Linked DNA regions of Homo sapiens. The protein of the gene in region 1 purifies or fractionates together with the protein of each later gene. This does not show direct contact. Each region holds a gene or a part of one and is shown in the gene's direction. Other genes may lie near its edges.

Evidence for each region.
Region 2: the proteins of RPF1 (region 1) and ZNF460 purify together in Homo sapiens (affinity purification with mass spectrometry; 2 studies listed by BioGRID and IntAct, with this or other methods). This does not show direct contact.
Region 3: the proteins of RPF1 (region 1) and ZNF512 purify together in Homo sapiens (affinity purification with mass spectrometry; 2 studies listed by BioGRID and IntAct, with this or other methods). This does not show direct contact.

What each region holds. Positions count from the first base shown.
Region 1 is NC_000001.11:84,474,956-84,482,304, forward strand, and holds the start of RPF1 (ribosome production factor 1), read left to right. Parts: upstream 1-4,310; 5' UTR 4,311-4,326; coding exon 4,327-4,554; intron 4,555-6,000; coding exon 6,001-6,057; intron 6,058-7,349.
Region 2 is NC_000019.10:57,290,451-57,294,583, forward strand, and holds the end of ZNF460 (zinc finger protein 460), read left to right. Parts: intron 1-248; coding exon 249-1,780; 3' UTR 1,781-3,619; downstream 3,620-4,133. UniProt on the Homo sapiens protein: May be involved in transcriptional regulation.
Region 3 is NC_000002.12:27,593,008-27,600,055, forward strand, and holds part of ZNF512 (zinc finger protein 512), read left to right. Parts: intron 1-5,059; coding exon 5,060-5,247; intron 5,248-6,575; coding exon 6,576-6,671; intron 6,672-6,962; coding exon 6,963-7,046; intron 7,047-7,048. UniProt on the Homo sapiens protein: May be involved in transcriptional regulation.

The sequences.
Region 1 (7,349 bases):
TTCTTTCTGGGCTCTCTATTCTGTTTTATCAGTCTATGTGTCTATTTCAAAGGAGAGCTGACATTGTGAGAATCTAATTGACACTATGAATCCCTGTAATAACATTTCAACATACTTCCTGGGTCAGTAAATCCTGAGAAACAAACCTTGTTAGTCATTAAGATAACTTAAATAATACAATAAACAAAAAAAAGAACTCTCAGAACTTCTTAGGATAAGTGGTTTAAATGCCAACAATAGCTCTTGGGTACTACTGAAGCATCCACAGATGAGAGGTTAGTTCTATAATAGTTCTGTTATTCCCACCAGTAGAGTGTAGGGCATAATTCAAGTCAGGAAGCTTTAATTTACTTTATGTTTGTCAAAGGCCTATACAACATTGTAAATAAAAAATGTGCCAACAACCAAATTGGTTATTCCTTATTCTGATGCAATGGATTCATATTTTGTGCCTTCGGAATGGGTTTCTGTGATGTAAAAAGCTTAAGTCATACTGTAAAATAATAGGTCAAATTTTCTGAAGAGAATCTTGATTTGGATCACTGAACTCACCTGGTGCCTAAGAGTTGTATTCCAGCGTGCCCCAAATGTCAGAATCAAAACAAATAGGCAAAAATTGTATTAAGTATTAAAAGTAAGTGCTTTATTTTAAAATAACATATACTCTATTGGAAGTGGGCCTGGAAAATAATGGGCAATGAAAGAATTGGTGAGAGAAAGTGAACGGCTGAAATGAACCTCGTAAAGCACTCTACAGTGACCTCTATTCTTGTGTTTCATCTTCTTCTAAAATTGTACACTACTTAATGGCAAACATGATGCCTTTTTCTTCCACACTAGTTAGAACAGTCTCTGACACCAATAAATGGTAAAAATAGCTAGCTAGCATTTATTGAGTGTGTCTGGTTCTTTAATATACATCTTTACTCCTCTCTATACATCCTATGTGGCAGTATAATTAGCCCCAGTTTACAGACAAATTGAGACCCACAGACATTTTATGATTTAACTGAGATTTTATAGCATCTAAGTGATTGAGCCAAGATCTGAACACAACCCACCCTATTCATTTACAGAGTAGCATTTAATACATATTTGTTGAATTAATCAATGTTTTTGTGACTTAAGAATAAGGACTTATTCTGATTATAGAAATCCTTTCATTCAACTCATACAATTGTTATTATAAATACGGCATGAAGAAAAAAAAAGGAAGTCTAAGTTAAGGAGTTAATGATCTCATTTGTATGGTGCTTCTAAATAAATTTAACACTGTTATCTAAATCTATTTCAAAACTATTTTGTATTCTTATGAGAAAAGGAAATATTATATGTAGGGAGATAAAACGTTACAGTTAGAAGAGACTTTCAAAATATTTTCTCAGTCTGTATTTCCAGGATGGAGATTTACTTATTCCCCTTCTTCTTCTTCTCCCCCTCCTCTTGTTCTTTTATTTATTTATTTATTTATTTATTTATTTATTTATTTATTTTTAAGACAGGGTCCTTCTGTCACCCAGGCTGGAGTGCAGTGATGCAATCACAGCTCACTGCAACCTTGAATTCCTGGGCTTAAGCTATTCTCCCACCTTGGCCTATCAAAGTGTTGGGATTACAGGCATGAGCCACAGCCCCAGGACTACTCTTCCTTTTTGACTTGATTACCCCCCTTTAAATAAACTATATATGAAATTTTATGGTTTTGGGGTTTTTTTTGTTTTGTTTTGTTTTTTGAGATGGAGTCTCACTCTGTCACCCAGGCTGGAGTACAATGGCACCATCTCAGCTCACTGCAACCTCCGCCTCCCAGGTTCAAGCAATTCTCCTGTCTCAGCCTCCTGAGTAGTTGGGATTACAGGCAACTGTCACCACATCCAGCGAATTTTTCTATTTTTAGTAGAGATGGGGTTTCACCATGTTGGCCAGGCTGGTCTCGAACTCCTGACCTCAAGTGATCCACCCACCTCAGCCTCCCAAAGTGCTGGGATTACAGGCATGAGCCACCATGTCCAGATAAATTTTATGATTTACTGCAGCCAAATCTATATGTCAGTGATTTTAAAACTCAATGCTATTTTTTTCCTTTTTTTGTATTATATAACTTAAATCCAATTTTGGATCTAAACATAATGATTTTAAGTTTTTTAACAACAATTTTCAATTTGTGATCTAATAGCAGGTTTGGATGGAGCTTGTGTTCTGGAAGACACAGTTTTGATGCTTTTAATATCCTGCTGTTGTTAAATAGAATTTGAATGGGTGAAAAATGAAATGTGGACAAAAACATATTGGATTCTCAAAACACGAAATATAGATATTGGTACATAAAATTTGAAATTAAGGCAGATTCTGGAAAACTGACTCCTAACAGTAAATCAAAAGGGATTTCTTGTTGCTATTTGGAAAGCATTTTCATAAAATTAGAATGAAGAATACAGCAAATTTAACCACTAGGAAAACACTTTCTTCACTTGCCTTCCATGACATTCTACTCTCTTGATTTTCTCTTCTCCTTCTCCTTTGCTGGGTCCTCCTTTTCTTTCCATCTCTTCATGCAGGACTCCTCCAGGGTTCAGTCCTTGATCTTCTTTTTTCAGTTTTCTATCTACACTCATTCTAATGGTTTGAAATACTACCTATGTGCCAATTACTTCCAAAGTTTGATCTTTAGCCCACACCTCTCTGTCCTGCTGCAGAATCATACATCCCAACTGACTAGTTGACACCACCAATCAGATCACTAAAAAGTATCTCAAACTTAACATTTCCAAAACTGAAATCTTGATCTTACCTCTCAGATTTGTTCCATCTGAACTTTCCCGCATTTCACCTGATGGTAACTCCATCCTTTGAATCACTCAGGTCGAAAGTCTTGGAGTCATCCTTGACTCTTTCATGTCCTCCCTTCAGTTCCATCAGTAACTTTACCTTCCAGAGGAATCACTTCTCAACCACCTACACAAGACTTACCCTGGTTCAGGCCACTATCATTTCTTCCCTTCTTCCACACACCCTGCCCCTGCATAGGCTCTTCTCAAAAGAAGATTCTGAATGACGCTTTTACTTTATTTTTATTTATTTTTTTGAGAGGGTCTCACCCTCTCACCCAGGCTGGAATGCAGTGGCACCAACATGGCTCATTGCAACCTAGCCTTCCAGGCTCAATGGATCCTACTGCCTCAGCCTCCTGAGTAGCTGGGACCACAGATGTACACCATGCCCAAACAGATATATATATTTTTTTACTTTTTGTAGACATGGGGTCTCACAGTGTTGCCAAAGCTGGTCTTGAACTCCCAGGCTCAAGCAATCCTCCTGCCTTGGCCTCCCAAAGTGCTAAAATTACAGGCATGGGCCACTGCACCAGCCTGATACTTTTAAGATGTTAAGATCATACCATTCTTTTCCTCAAAATTCTATAAGAGATCTTCATCTCACATAAAATAAAAGCCAAAGTCCTTACAAAACTCTACACCACCTGTCCAATCTCAACACTTCTTGCCTTTCCTGGCTTGCTACTGACTAGGAGCATTGGAGCTGGCTGTTTGCTTTGCCAGGACAGCTTTTCTCCTTGATAACCAGCTTTTCTCAGATTAACAGCTCTTCCCTCAGATAACTAGTTTAGCCCATTACCTCCTTCAAACCTTGGCTCAATGTAACGTTTTCAATGAAGCCTACTCTGAGAATCCTATTTAAAATTGCAACGTACTTTGGGAGTCCAGGGCGGACAGATCACCTGAAATCAAGAGTACAAGACCAGCCTGGCCAACATGGTGAAACTCCATCTCTGCAAAAATACAAAAATTAGCCGGGCATGGTGGCACGTGTTTGTAGTCCCAGCTACTCAGGAGGAGGAGTTTGCAGTGATCGGAGATCGTGCCACTGCACTCCAGCCTGGGCATTAAAGCAAGGCTCCGTCTCAAAAAGATGAATGTCTCTTCATCTTCTTTTATCCTGTTCTATTTTTTTTCCATACCATGTCTTACTCTGTAGCTCACCATAATTTATTTGTATGCTCATTTTAGGTTTCCCTCAAGTAAAACGTAAACTAATCCAGGCACGGTTTTTGTTGTTGTTCCATTATTTTGAGGGCTGGGCACATAGATGCGCAAGGAGTGCCCAAACTCATCATCTCACTCTTTATACAGCTGGGCAAACTGCCTAAAGTTTCCTCAAGCCTCAGCTTTACTATTTTCTTGAATGGCTAAAACTCACAAAACACATCTAGCGTCAAAAACTTTGCGACCCCGGAAGTAAAAGGTTAAGGAAGGGGGTCACAGGAGAAGGCTATTTCCGTTTCCGTACGGAAGCAAAGGAGCCAAGACCATGGCGAAAGCCGGGGATAAGAGCAGCAGCAGCGGGAAGAAAAGTCTAAAACGGAAAGCCGCTGCCGAAGAACTTCAGGAGGCTGCAGGCGCTGGGGATGGGGCGACGGAAAACGGGGTCCAACCCCCGAAAGCGGCTGCCTTTCCGCCAGGCTTTAGCATTTCGGAGATTAAAAACAAACAGCGGCGACACTTAATGTTCACGCGGTGGAAACAGCAGCAGCGGAAGGTACGCGAGAGGCGGGGGCTGCCGGGCGCTTGCGCGTTGTTCCTGACGCTTAGGGCGGTCGCGGGGCGCACATCTGTGGTTGTCTGCTGGTCTCAAAAGTGTTCTCTGTGGCTCCGTGGGAAGGGTGGCGTCGCGGCCCACGTGTTCTGGTCCCCTCGCCCTAGTTTGGAGACTCTAGGTTCAGCCTTTTGCCTGAGCGTCAAGGTGGAAGATTATCTTGATAGGCTCTTTCCTGGGACGCTAGATTCACAAGGAAAGCTGTAAGGCCAGTTGGCTTAGTAGTGAAAACTACGCCCTCCTGGCCCAGAAGGCAAAAGTCTCAGCCCTTTGGTCCGTCTAGGTAGCGTTGGTTAATTTGCAGAATCTGAAATGGAGGCAATACGTAATAAATCCAAAATACTGCTTCTCTGATTCCTGCAGGAGCTCCTTACCGAAATTAGTACTGTAAAGTTTCTGGTAATTGTATTTGTTCTTTTCAGCTTTATCCTTATACGTTTCTGGTAGGTAAACAAACTGAAACGTAAAGAGGTTTAAACGACTTGTCAAGGTCGCAGTGCTCATTTCTGGTTAAATTGCAATTGGAAGAAAACGTTTGCTTATTCTTGCACATCGTAGAAGTTCACACAATATTATTATTATGTGTCTGCCTCCTCTTACTGGCCCTTCTGAGGCCCGGGACTGGTTCTTACTCATGTTCAGTGTCAAGGTGCTGTTTCAATACATACAAGGGGCGTTTAACTCATTCTGGTATGCACGTATTGGGGAGGGATGTCCTGGAAGACTTATTGGAGCTATGATTTCTAATCTGAAACCTGGTGGATTGAGGATCAGTAGGTGCTGGGGAAAAAAGAATATTTTTTATTTTGTCAAGCATTCTATCTAGAAATCTCCAGAAGAATATATAGATTGACAATACAAATACAGATAATCTTAAGCCACCTTGCAAGCTCTTACTAAATTTTAGAAGTATATTTTGATTATAAAATATGTGAATAACTGGTGATGGTTTTATGGAAAACAACCTGAAAACTCAGCTCCCATTCCTATTTTTAGTGCTTTTCAAGAGAAGCAAGCAGCATAACCATGGTCGTCTTTAGGATGCCACCAGTTAGGCAAAACAAAACACAGTGGAAACCATCACATACTTTAATTAATTTGAGGCTTTATGGAAAAAGGTTAAGCTACTCAAATTTTAAATGTTCAAACTTGCCAGTTTAGATTTTTTTAAAGGAGCAGGTCTTTGTTAAAGAAATCTTATTGATTGGCCAGCTCATTTGGCTTACAGTAATTTAGGTAGAAAACTCCACGTCCAGATGCTTATTTCAATAGATTACAAAGACCGCCCAGTTCGAGTATTCATAGCATTAGTAATTTGTAGTTTCAGTATGTGTTTGTGATATAACTGGTTGTTTCTCAGTATTGTTCTCTTTTTTTTTAACCCTTTAGGAAAAGTTGGCAGCTAAGAAAAAACTTAAAAAAGAAAGAGAGGCTCTTGGCGATAAGGTAAATAAAATTTTTAGCTGTTTGCTTTCTATCTTATATTAGGGAATCCCTCCTGATATTTAAGTTGAATTACTTTCTTTTAAAATTTATTATTACGTATTTCAGATGTATGAAGAAATACAAAAGTAATATAATAAACCTCTTTGTATCATTTACCCAGCTTAAGAAATAATGCATTAGCAAAGAATGTTGGAAGCCCCTCGTCTGCTTCATAATTGCTTTTCCCTCCGAAGATAACCACTCGTGAAATTTTTGATTATTTTTTCCATGCACTTCTTTTACCTTTACTGTGTATGTTTGTGTACCTATACGGTAACACAGTGGTGGTATTTTGCATATAACTTTGTGTTTCAGAGGTCAACACCTCTCCCTGACTTTGGGAATGGGGAAGCTCCCCCAGGTTAGGCCTGGAGCTTGGCTCTTGTCATGTGAAGCAAAGATTTTTGGTCAGGCAAGGCTGGGGAAAGGCAGGACAGATCCTCTTCTGGAGTAGGGTGATAAGGGTGTGTTAAGCTTTAGAGCTGGTACAGAGGATATGAACCTGTGAAAAGTGAGAATGGGGAGTGGGAGGACGGTGAGGATTATGGCAGAGAAAAGAGCAGATAATGCATCAAGAAAGAATTTGGCTGTATTTGTGGTACTCATAAGAAGTGAAATCTTTATTGAAAAAATTTTTTAAACTACTAAATGCTCATACATTATTGCATAGCTAAGTTATTTTTATTTTCAGTGTATTTATAGTTACTCCTAGGTTGTGATTTATTTTTGCAAAATTTTGAAAACATTCATGTCTCCGCCTCCCATTCAAGTAAGTTACCAAATAAGGGTGTTTGAGGAAGGGAAAAAAATGTAAAGACAGTATACAAACTAAACACTCTACTATTTCATACATTCTTTGAATAGTATTAGGTTAAACCATAGAAAATTGTCAATAGTAGACTGTTTTGACCTGCAGTATCCTAGTATGTCAAGCATGTTAGTCTCTTTTTAATTCTTTTGTAATCAGTCTATTACAGCAAATTAATGTTATGATCACCATTTGAAAACACCACCATTCTTGTTTTTTGAGATGAAAGATAACTTCTTAAAATTGCCTCCTTTAAAAAATGCTTAAAATGTAATATTTGTTTCATAGAGTAATAAATGCTAGTTTCAGTTTGTATTTTCTTCATAGCTCTGCTAGTGTACATATATTTTGAATTAGTTTTAATGTACTCTTACAATTCTGTGTTCTACTTCTTAGCAATTCATTTACACCATTTCTTGGTCTAAGCTGAGTATGCATGATTGCT
Region 2 (4,133 bases), on another chromosome or scaffold:
TATTTTTAGTAGATATGGGGTTTCACCATGTTGGCCAGGCTGGTCTCAAACTCCTGACCTCAAGTGATCCGCCTGCCTTGGCCTCCCAAAGTGCTGGGATTACAGGGATGAGCCACTGTACCCAGCCCATCAAATCATAGCTATTTTCAAATCATCACTATTTTCATCTTATTGTTCTCACCAAAAAGGTGGTTTCATTTCTTCTGTACTATCTTAATAAGTTCTTTTGTGTATTGTGTTCCCTTCAGGTGACAGCACAAAACCTGAGACCGTAGAGCCTATCCCTTCTCATCTGGCCTTGCCTGAGGAAGTCTCACTCCAGGAACAGCTGGCACAGGGAGTCCCAAGATACTCCTATTTGGGGCAGGCCATGGATCAAGATGGGCCATCTGAAATGCAGGAATACTTTTTGAGACCAGGGACAGACCCACAGAGTGAGAAACTCCATGGGAAAATGAGCCTTGAACACGAAGGTTTGGCGACAGCTGATGGTATTTGTTCAATGATGATACAGAACCAAGTCTCACCAGAAGATGCTCTCTATGGATTTGACTCATATGGACCAGTTACAGATTCCTTGATTCATGAAGGGGAAAATTCCTATAAATTCGAGGAAATGTTTAATGAGAATTGCTTCCTTGTTCAGCATGAGCAGATTCTCCCTCGTGTGAAGCCCTATGATTGCCCAGAATGTGGGAAAGCCTTCGGCAAGAGCAAACACCTCCTTCAGCATCACATCATCCATACTGGGGAGAAGCCCTATAAATGCCTGGAGTGTGGGAAAGACTTCAACCGCAGGTCACACCTCACACGGCACCAGCGGACTCACAATGGAGATAAGCCCTTTGTGTGCAGTGAATGTGGAAGGACCTTCAATCGCGGGTCGCACCTTACACGGCACCAGCGGGTTCACAGTGGAGAGAAGCCTTTTGTGTGCAATGAATGTGGAAAGGCCTTTACCTACCGCTCCAATTTTGTCTTGCATAACAAGAGCCACAATGAGAAGAAACCCTTCGCATGCAGCGAATGTGGAAAAGGCTTTTATGAGAGTACAGCCCTCATTCAACACTTCATTATCCATACTGGGGAGAGGCCCTTTAAGTGCCTTGAGTGTGGGAAGGCCTTCAACTGCAGGTCACACCTCAAGCAGCATGAGCGGATTCACACTGGTGAGAAGCCCTTTGTGTGCAGTCAATGTGGAAAGGCCTTCACTCACTATTCCACCTATGTCCTGCATGAAAGAGCCCACACTGGAGAAAAGCCTTTTGAGTGCAAAGAATGTGGGAAAGCCTTTAGCATTCGAAAAGACCTCATTCGACACTTCAACATCCACACTGGAGAGAAGCCCTATGAGTGTTTACAGTGTGGAAAGGCTTTTACCCGCATGTCAGGGCTCACAAGGCACCAGTGGATTCATACTGGAGAGAAGCCGTATGTATGCATCCAATGTGGGAAAGCCTTTTGTCGGACCACAAACCTGATTCGACACTTTAGCATCCACACTGGAGAGAAGCCCTATGAATGCGTGGAGTGCGGGAAGGCCTTCAACCGCAGGTCACCCCTCACAAGGCACCAGCGGATTCACACTGCAGAGAAGTCCCACGAACCCATCCAGAGTGGGAACGTTTCTTGTGAGAGCACAGATCTCATTCAACACTCCATCATCCACACTGAGAGTAGCCCAGTGAGTGCAGTGAATATGGAAACGCCTTCAATTGCCGCTCATTCCTCCTCACTCGACATCAACGGATTCATAGTGGAAGAAACCCTACCATTGTAACAGATGTGGAAAGACTTTTTACGTACACTTCAGTCAACATCCAAGAATTCCTATTAGCGAAATAGTTTTTTAATATAACCACTGAAGAAAATCTGTGGTGAGAGGAAACATCTTACCATCTGGTCATTCATACTGAAGAGAAACTCCATAAGTATCATCTCTGTGGGAAAACCTGTTTTAGATCATCATTTGTCATCTAAACAATTATGTTAGAAATTGACACAGCCAAGAGTCTTATTCTACATCTGATAATTCACCCATGAAAGAGACCCAGTGGTTACTGTGCACTTAGGAAAACCTTCAGCCACATCTTTCTTATTAGTTTACAGTGAAATGTTATCTCAGGGACATTCAAACAAAGGAGGAGGAGTCATAGGGAAGAGAAAGAAATGGAAGCACAGCTTCTTTCAGACTTCCCTGACAAGCCCATGGCAATTTGTCATCCCCTCCTTATTTTATTTGGGAGAGGGAAATGTTTCAGAAACAAAAGGGCCTCATCCCCTTTATTTTCCCTGTGTATACATTCACTGCTGTCCAGTGCTGTAGACAAACGGTTTGTTTGAAAACATTTTGTGAAAGCCTGCTTTGTTCCACAGCATTGTCTCCACTCTTGAGGAGCAGAAGCATATATCTTTATGAGAAAGATGGAGGCTTGAGTTATGAAATACTTTTACATTTAAGGAGATAAAGGATGTACATATGAATGGGCACATTTTACTGCACACTTCAGACGCTTTGACTTTTTTAAAAAAATTGTTTCTCCGTGTGTCTTTAACCACCCAGTACCATACTTTTTTCTTGATCTGGATCTACTTGTCAATTTCTTCTTTATTTTTCTGTAGGATGGAGATGATATTGTAGCTGTTTGTACATAATGTAATCCAGGGAGTCCTAATTCTTCCCTCTGATTGTGGTTTCTCAGCTTTTTTACTGCTCTTTAGAGAGAGTAAATAGTTCAAAATTCACCTCAACAATTTTCTAGAGGTCAATTTGGAACCAAAAATGAAATAAGACATGTAGCTAAAGTAAGTTAAAAGATTATGATAAACTCAGAAAATAAACACAGAGAAGGAATCTCATTTTTCAGTCTTACAGAAGATTGTGTGAAGGCTGACTATACATAAAGTGACTGGAATTTTAACAGGTGAACCTGCATATGTATATGCAGGTAGTTGTCACCATGGATTGAGTCCAGTCGTAGTAATTAATATGTTTAATCAGAATATTTTGGAATTTCTCTTTTGGTATTCTTTTTGTTTCTTTTATTGTTTTTAATTGACAATGTTTATGGGGTTTGGTGTGATATTTCAATACATGTGTGCTAAGAGTAATGATCAAATCAGGGTAATTAGCATATCCATCTCAATCATTTATCATTTCTTTGTGTTTAGAAACATTCACAGTCTGCTTTTCTAGCTATTTGAAAATATAAAATGTATTATTGCCAATTGTACTCATTCTGCAGTGCCACAGAACACTACAACTTATTCAAATGGAATCTTACTTGCTGTAATTTTGTATTTGTTAACCAATCTCTATCTGCCTCTCTGCTGTCCTTCCCAGCCTCTGGTTACCACCATTCTCAACCTTTTATGCTTGCATATGAGTAGAAACATGGAGTATTTCTCTTTCTGTGTCTAGCTTATTTCACTTAATGTCTTTCAAGCTCATTCATGTTGCTGTGAATGACAGGTTTATTTTTCATGGCTGAGTAGTATTCCATTGTGTATATATGCCATGTTTTCTTTCTTCATTCATCTGATAATGGACACTTAGACTGATTTCTTAGCTATTATGAATAGTGCTTCAATAAACATAGGAGTGTAGATCTCTCTTTGACGTATAGATATATTTGTTTTTGCATATATGCCCAGTAGTGGTATAGATCATTACCAGTGGATCATATGGTAGTTGTATTTTTAACTTTTGTTTATTTTTCATTTTTTAAAATGGGGTCTTGCTGTGTTATTCAGGCTGGTCTCAGACTCCTGGGCTCAAGCAGTCCTGCACCTCAGCCTCCTGAGTAGCTGGGACTACAGGCACACACCACCGTGCCTGGCTATAGTTTTAGATTTTTGAGGAACATTCATACTGTTTTCCATATGGCTATACTAATTAGCATTCCTACCAGCCATATATAAGAGTTCCCCCTTTTCCATGTTCTCAGCAGCATTTTTTATTTTTTATCTTTGGTAATAGCCATCCTAACTGAGGTGAAATTATATCTCATTGTGGTTTTGATTTGCATTTCCCTGATTAGTGATGTTGAGCATTTTTTCATATACTTGGCCATTTGTATGTCTCCTTTTGAGGGATGTCTATTCACCTTATTTACCCATTTTAAAATCAGATT
Region 3 (7,048 bases), on another chromosome or scaffold:
TTTTTCCTCTCTTCACTCCCTCATGTCTCCCCTCCCCTTCCTGGCTGAATAGTTTCGTTAAGATGTGTCTTGGTTGGGTACCGTGGCTCATGCCTGTAATCCCAGCAGTTTGGGAGGCTGAGGTAGGAAGATTGCTTGAGCCCAGGAGTTTGATACCAGCCTGGACAACAAAGTGAGACCCTGTCTCTACACACACACACACACACACACACACACACACACACACACACACACACACAAAAGAATGAGCTGGGTACCGTGGCACACACTTGTGGTCTCAGCTACTCAGGAGGCTGAGGTGGGAGGATTGTTTAAGCCTGGGAGGTGGAGGCTGTGCTTGAGCCACTACACTCCAGCCTGAGTGACAGAGTGAGACCTTGTCTCAAAAAAAAAAAAAAAAAAAGTGCTTTGGACCAGCCTGGGCAACATAGCAAGACCCTGTCTCTATGAAAAAACACAAAAATTTAGTGGGTATGATGGTGTGCACCTGTGGTTCCAGCTACTCGGGTATGGTGAGGTGAGAGGATCACTTGAGCCAGAGAGGTCCAAGCTGCAGTGAGCCATGTGCCACTGCACTCTGGCCTGGAGAACAGAACAAGACTGTGTTTCAAAACAAAACAAAAAGATGTATCTTGGTATGTTTTTCTTTGAGTTATCCTATTTGGTGTTTGTTGAGCTCCTTGAATCTGTAAATTTATATCTGACCAAACGTGGGGGATTTTCCACCTTTTTTTTTTCAAATGTATTTTTCTGCCTTAGTATCTTTCTTTCTTTCTTTTTTTTTTTTTCCATTTAACCCTGAGTTGACACAGCACATGTTTCAGAGAGCACAGGGTTGGGGGTAAGGTTATAGATCAACAGCATCCCAAGGCAGAAGAATTTTTCTTAGTACAGAACAAAATGGAGTCTCCTATGTCTACTTCTTTCTACACAGACACAGTAACAATCTGATCTCTCTTTCTTTTCTCCACATTTCCCCCTTTTCTTTTCGACAAAACCGCCATCATCATCATGGCCCATTCTCAATGGTCACTGTCTCTTCGGAGCTGTTGGGTACACCTGCAGAAAGGCTGTCACTTCACACTTGGAAGATTGCACAGCGGCCAGTCAGAGGTGCTCCTCACTTCCCAGACAGGGTGGCGGCCGGGCAGAGGCGCTCCTCACATCCCAGATGGGGCGGCCAGGCAGAGGCACTCCTCACCTCCCGGACAGGGCGGCCGGGCAGAGGCGCTCCTCACATCCCAGACGGGGTGGTGGCCGGGCAGAGGCACTCCTCAGTTCGCAGACGGGGTGGCAGCCGGGCAGAGGCGCTCCTCACCTCCTAAACGGGGTGGCGGCCGGGCGGAGGCGCTCCTCACCTCCCAGAAGGGGTGGCGGCCGGGCAGAGACGCTCCTCACCTCCCAGACGGGGTGGCGGCTGGGCAGAGACGCTCCTCACCTCCCAGACGGGGTGGCGGCCGGGCAGAGGTGCTCCTCACCTCCCAGACAGGGCGGCCGGGCAGAGGCGCTCCTCACTTCCCAGACAGGGCGGCCGGGCAGAGGCGCTGGTCACATCCCAGATGATGGGCGGCCAGGCAGAGACGCTCCTCACTTCCTAGACGGGGTGGCGGCCGGGCAGAGGCGCTCCTCACTTCCCAGACGGGGCGGCCGGGCAGAGGGTCTCCTCCCATCCCAGATGATGGGCAGCCAGGCAGAGACGCTCCTCACTTCCTAGATGGGGTGGCGGCCGGGCAGAGGCTGTAGTCTTAGCACTTTGGGAGGCCAAGGCAGGCGGCTGGGAGGTGGAGGTTGTAGCGAGCCGAGATCACGCCACTGCACTCCAGCCTGGGCAACATTGAGCATTGAGTGAGCAAGACTCCGTCTGCAATCCCAGCACCTCGGGAGGCGGAGGCGAGCAGATCACTCGAGGTCAGGAGCTGGAGACCAGCCTGGTCAACACGGCGAAACCCCGTCTCCACCAAAAATACAAAAACCAGTCAGGCGTGGCGGCGCGTGCCTGCAATCCCAGGCATTGGGCAGGCCCAGGCAGGAGAATCAGGGGAGCCCGAGGTAGGGAGGTTGTAGCTAGGTGAGATCACGGCAGTATGGTCCAGCCTTGGCAACAGAGGGAGACCGAAGAAGGGAGAGGGAGGAGAGCGGGGAGAGGGAGAGCGAGAGCTGCATTAGTATCTTTCGCCTCTCCCTCTGGGATTACAACTACACTTAAGTTAAAACGTTTGGTATTAGGGTTTTGTTGAATGTTTTTCAATCTTTTTTTCTCTTTGTTCTTCAGACTGGTTTTTTTTCTTTTCTTTTCTTTTTTTTTTTTTTTGAGATGGAGTCTCGCACTGTCGCCCAGGCTGGAGTGCAGTGGTGCGATCTCTGCTCACTGCAGCGGCGCGATCTCTGCTCATTGCAGCCTCCGCCTCCCAGGTTCAAGCGATTCTCCTGCCTCAGCCTGCCGAGTAGCTGAGATTACAGGCACCCACCACCAGGCCTGGCTAATTCTTTTGTATTTTTAGTAGAGACGGGGTTTCACTATGCTGATCAGGCTGGTCTCGAACTCCTGACCTTGTGATCCGCCTGCCTCGGCCTCCCAAAGTGCTGGATTACAGGCGTGAGCCACTGTGCCCGGTGGAGACTGGGTCATTTCTATTGAACGGTCTTCAAGTTCACAGACTCTTTCCTCTGTCATCTCCATTCTATTACTGAACCTATCTGATGAGTTTTTATTTCAGATGTTGTATTTTTCAGTTCTAAGATTTCATTTGGTTCTTTTTTATGGTTTCTTTTTCTGCTGATGATTCCCACCTTTTCCTTCATTTCTTGTGTGTTTTCTTTATAAGAAAGTATTTCTTTTTTGTTGACAGTATTTGATAGTCCCAAAATCTGGATCACCTTGTGGCTGGCATGTTTTGGTCATTTGTTCCTTTGAAAATTGCTCACATTTTCCTGGTTCTTTATGTGTTGCATAATTTTGGAATTTATCCTCATCATTGTGAATACTTTTTGTGTAGATTTTGGGTCCTATTATAATTCTTCTGGGGAATGTTGCCGTTTCTGTTTTAGCAGGCCACCCTGCTTCAGGTTCAGGCCAAAACTTCTGTCTTGCTTTTGGAGGCATTTGTTAAAATCTCGGTTCTGTTCTTTATGTCTTTGCTATGTTGATTTGAGCTGTCCCAAACATGAATAGCTTAGGGGCTGGTCTGAGACTTCTGCAGGTGTTTCCAATCTTATTTCAGTTCTCCAAGCTTTTGCTGCTTTGGTTTGGGTCACATTAGAGTTCAAATCTCATTTTGGTTTTCAAAGTCTTTGCTAGGCTGGTACGTATGGGTATATGCCACACATTCATGGCTAAGGTTAAGTTGTGACTTATTTGGATTCATACATTGAATTAAGAGATTCTTTTTTTTGCCTGTTTTCTCTCTAGCATTCCTCCCACCCCCAGTCCCCCAACTCTGGTCCACAGGGACCTTTTTTCCTGATTTACCTGGTAAGAAAGAAGGGAGTTTCTAGAATTAAAGCTGCCTATGCTGCTCTGCAAGTGGGGTTCATCCTCATTGCAAATTCTTACTTGAGGGAAAAAGACAGAATTGGAAAACTCACCCCATTTGGGGCACTTCTCCCAACTTTGACTCCCCTGCATAATTTACTTGTTTTTGTTTGTTTTACAGAGTCCAGTGAGCAGGAGGGGTGGGCCTTAGTGGGCTTAGCTGCCCCTCCAGAGCCAGGACTTCTGTGTATTAAATTTGTGTTATTGGACCTCATGTGTGGAGAGCCGAAACTCATTCTTCCCTATTTGTAACATACTGACATAACCAGTCTCTGTTATGTTTACTCATCCCCATTTCCATCCCCTCCCTCCTAGAGGAAACTGTATAAACAAGTGTGATGTTTGCACTTAAATATTTATGACTCCTTTAAAAAATAAGCTTTAAAATAAGCTGCTTTATGTGTGGATTTGTTTTTAGCTTGCTGAACTGACATTGTGCTAGAGATACTGTTTTGTTTCTTTTTTCATTCAACAATATACTTTTTAGTTATGGTCGTGTCTCTATGTGTAGAATTAGTTTATTGCTTCTAACAGCAGCACAGTATTCCATAGTAGGCATCTATCACATTTTGCAAGGATGGTCACTGTGTTACTTCCAACTCCCTGATGTCATAAGCAAACCTCTCTATGTGTAATTCTTATTAGCTCTACATCTAAAGTGTTACCTTGAATCTGCCAATTCAAGTTAACTTTTTTCCTTTTGTTTACTCTTTCTCCCATGGGCTGTCTCCATAGAGCAGCCAGAAGGATCTTTCTGAACCATAAATCTAAAGTAGGCCTCACAGGTATTTAGCTGGAAAAGGGAGGTTCTAGGAGTCCATTGACCACTCTTGGAGAACTGCTGCTCTGCTGCATCTTGAGCCACCTAGAAGAATGTCTGATGCTTTGTAGTTACAGAGTAATGTTTTTTAGCTGTCATACTGACTGGTCTTAGATTTTGGAATCTGGATTCAGCTGTATACCAGAAATCTCTGGCCAGGTTAATTCATGCAAGATAGCATCCATCCTTTAGCTGTGGAAGCTAAGTATCATGTTGCCTAAATAAGATAGGGCATCAGGTTTTAGGGAGAATGCTGAGGCAGAAGGAAGATGAGTCAGATTAGGGCCCACAGACTATTCCTTTCCCTTAGAGATACCCTTTAGTTGCCATCCCTCTGTCAGAGAAAGAGAGAGGCTGGGACATACCAGGTTACAAATCCAGGGAGTCTTCTGAAGGGTCATAGAACACCTTTATTGCTTCACCTACTTTCTTTTATTAGATGAATCTAGGAAGGAATGTCTACTTGGGCTGCAAAGTGATCATTTATGTGTACTGCTTACTCTTATTACAATGAAGTGTGATAATAATTGTACATGTTGTGTTAGATCAACTATTGTTATTGTTAGGTGATTACAACTTACATTCTGTTTTTATAGCAGGCTTCTTAGTTTTCTGCAGAGGTAACCAACTTGGTTATAATGTAAAAGAATGTATAGAAATTTTGCTCCAGACCTTCCTTTGTGGTATATATTTTTATGTTGTATTAGTAGCAGGACCCAGTGCTCCATAAAGGATAATAGTTTCCAGTACACTATCCCTCATGATGACTCCTTAAGTGGTTCATCGTCTGCATCTTCGTGTGAACCAGTGAGTGATTTTCCAGCATCTTTCCGAAAATCTACCTACTGGATGAAGATGAGAAGAATCAAGCCAGCTGCTACTTCTCATGTCGAAGGTATCAATATCAGTGTCTTATTCTGAAGACGGGCCACTTCCTAAAGTTATAGTTTGAGATTGTTATAAATACCTCTTAAAAGTATTAAATGGCGGCTGAGCGTGGTGGCTCACGCCTGTAATCCCAGCACTTTGGGAGGTCGAGGCGGGCGGATCACAAGGTCAGGAGATCGAGACCATCCTGGCTAACATGGTGAAACCCCGTCTCTACTAAAAATACAAAAAATTAGCGGGGCCTGGTGGTGGGCGCCTGTAGTCCCAGCTACTCAGGAGGCTGAGGCAGGAGAATGGCATGAACCTGGGAGGCAGAGGTTGCACTGAGCAGAGATCGCACCATTGCACTGTAGCCTGGGCGAAAGAGCGAGACTCCGTCTCAAAAAAAAAAAAAAAAGAGTATGAAATGCCACATATTTGTTTCTCATTAGTGATTTAAAAAAATTTAAGGTGTTAGGCAATTGCATCCTGTCCCATTAGCTTCATGAACTGCTATGTGATAGAGTGAAATTCTGCTAATCTTACTCCTCTAGATTATATTTAGCATTTGATTTTCCTCTTTGTAGTATTTGAATTCCCCTTTTCTTCTTCTTTTTTTTTTGAGACGGAGTTTCACTCTTCTTGCCCAGACTAGAGTGCAATGACTCGAGCTCAGGCTCACCGCACCCTCCTTCTCCTGGGTTCAAGCGATTCTCCTGCCTCAGCTTGTAATGCCAGCTGAGTAGCTGGGATTACAGGCATGTGCCACCACACCTGGCTAATTTTGTATTTTTAGCAGAGACGGGGTTTCTCCATGTTGGTCAGGCTGGTCTTGAACTCCTGACCTCAGGTAATCCGCCCACTTTGGCCAAAGTCTGTAATCTCAAAGTGCTGGGATTACAGATGTGAGTCACCATGGCTGGCCCCCCTTTTCTTCTAGTGTGATCCTCTGTTGATGATTTAGGGGCTGGTGTAAGGATTATTCAGGGGAGAATATTCTGGATCGTCACAATCTCAAGGGTCCTTGGTGGCTAGCCCTCTATCTTGAGCAATTCTTATCCTCTTGTTAGCCTCAAGTCAAGATTAAGCAAAACACATTGCTTGAATGCCCTTATTATTCATAAGGAACAATGGATGATTTGGAATAGATAACAATATAAAAAGAAAGGGAGAGTGGGTCAGTTAATGAGAAGTTACACCAACTTCTCTAAAAATGTCACAGACATTTCTCTGAGGCCTGTGTTCACTGATGATCTTTCCTTTTGATGGTCTTGTGAATGATGTTTTGAAGACAGGCCTAGATGTTCATTTACAAAGTGTGCTGAGTTTTTGTTTTGTTTTTGTATGGTACTTCAGGGTCAGGTGGAGTATCAGCCAAGGGGAAAAGGAAACCCAGGCAGGAAGAAGATGAAGACTATCGAGAATTTCCTCAGAAGAAGCATAAGCTTTATGGTAAGGCAGTAACTTTGCTACTTCTTTTTCCTTGGGTGACTGAGCTTTATTCTTTGAGGGTAAAGGAAAGAGAAGCCTTAGTTTGAGCCCTTCAGTGACCTCTGAGCCCTTTGAATTGTTTGGGAGGGAATGGCCTCCATCCTGCCTCATTATACCCTTTCATTCTGTCCTGACTTAGGCAGTCAGTCGGTTGAGGGACTGGGAAATAGGGTGTTGAAGAGGAGGAGAGGGAAGAGATTTTGGTATTAGCAAGGGTGACATGCTGGGCTTCAAGTTTCTGTCTTATGTCAGGGAGGAAGCAACGGCCTAAAACTCAGCCCAATCCCAAATCCCAGGCCCGTCGTATTCGGAAGGAACCACCAGTTTATGCAGCAGGT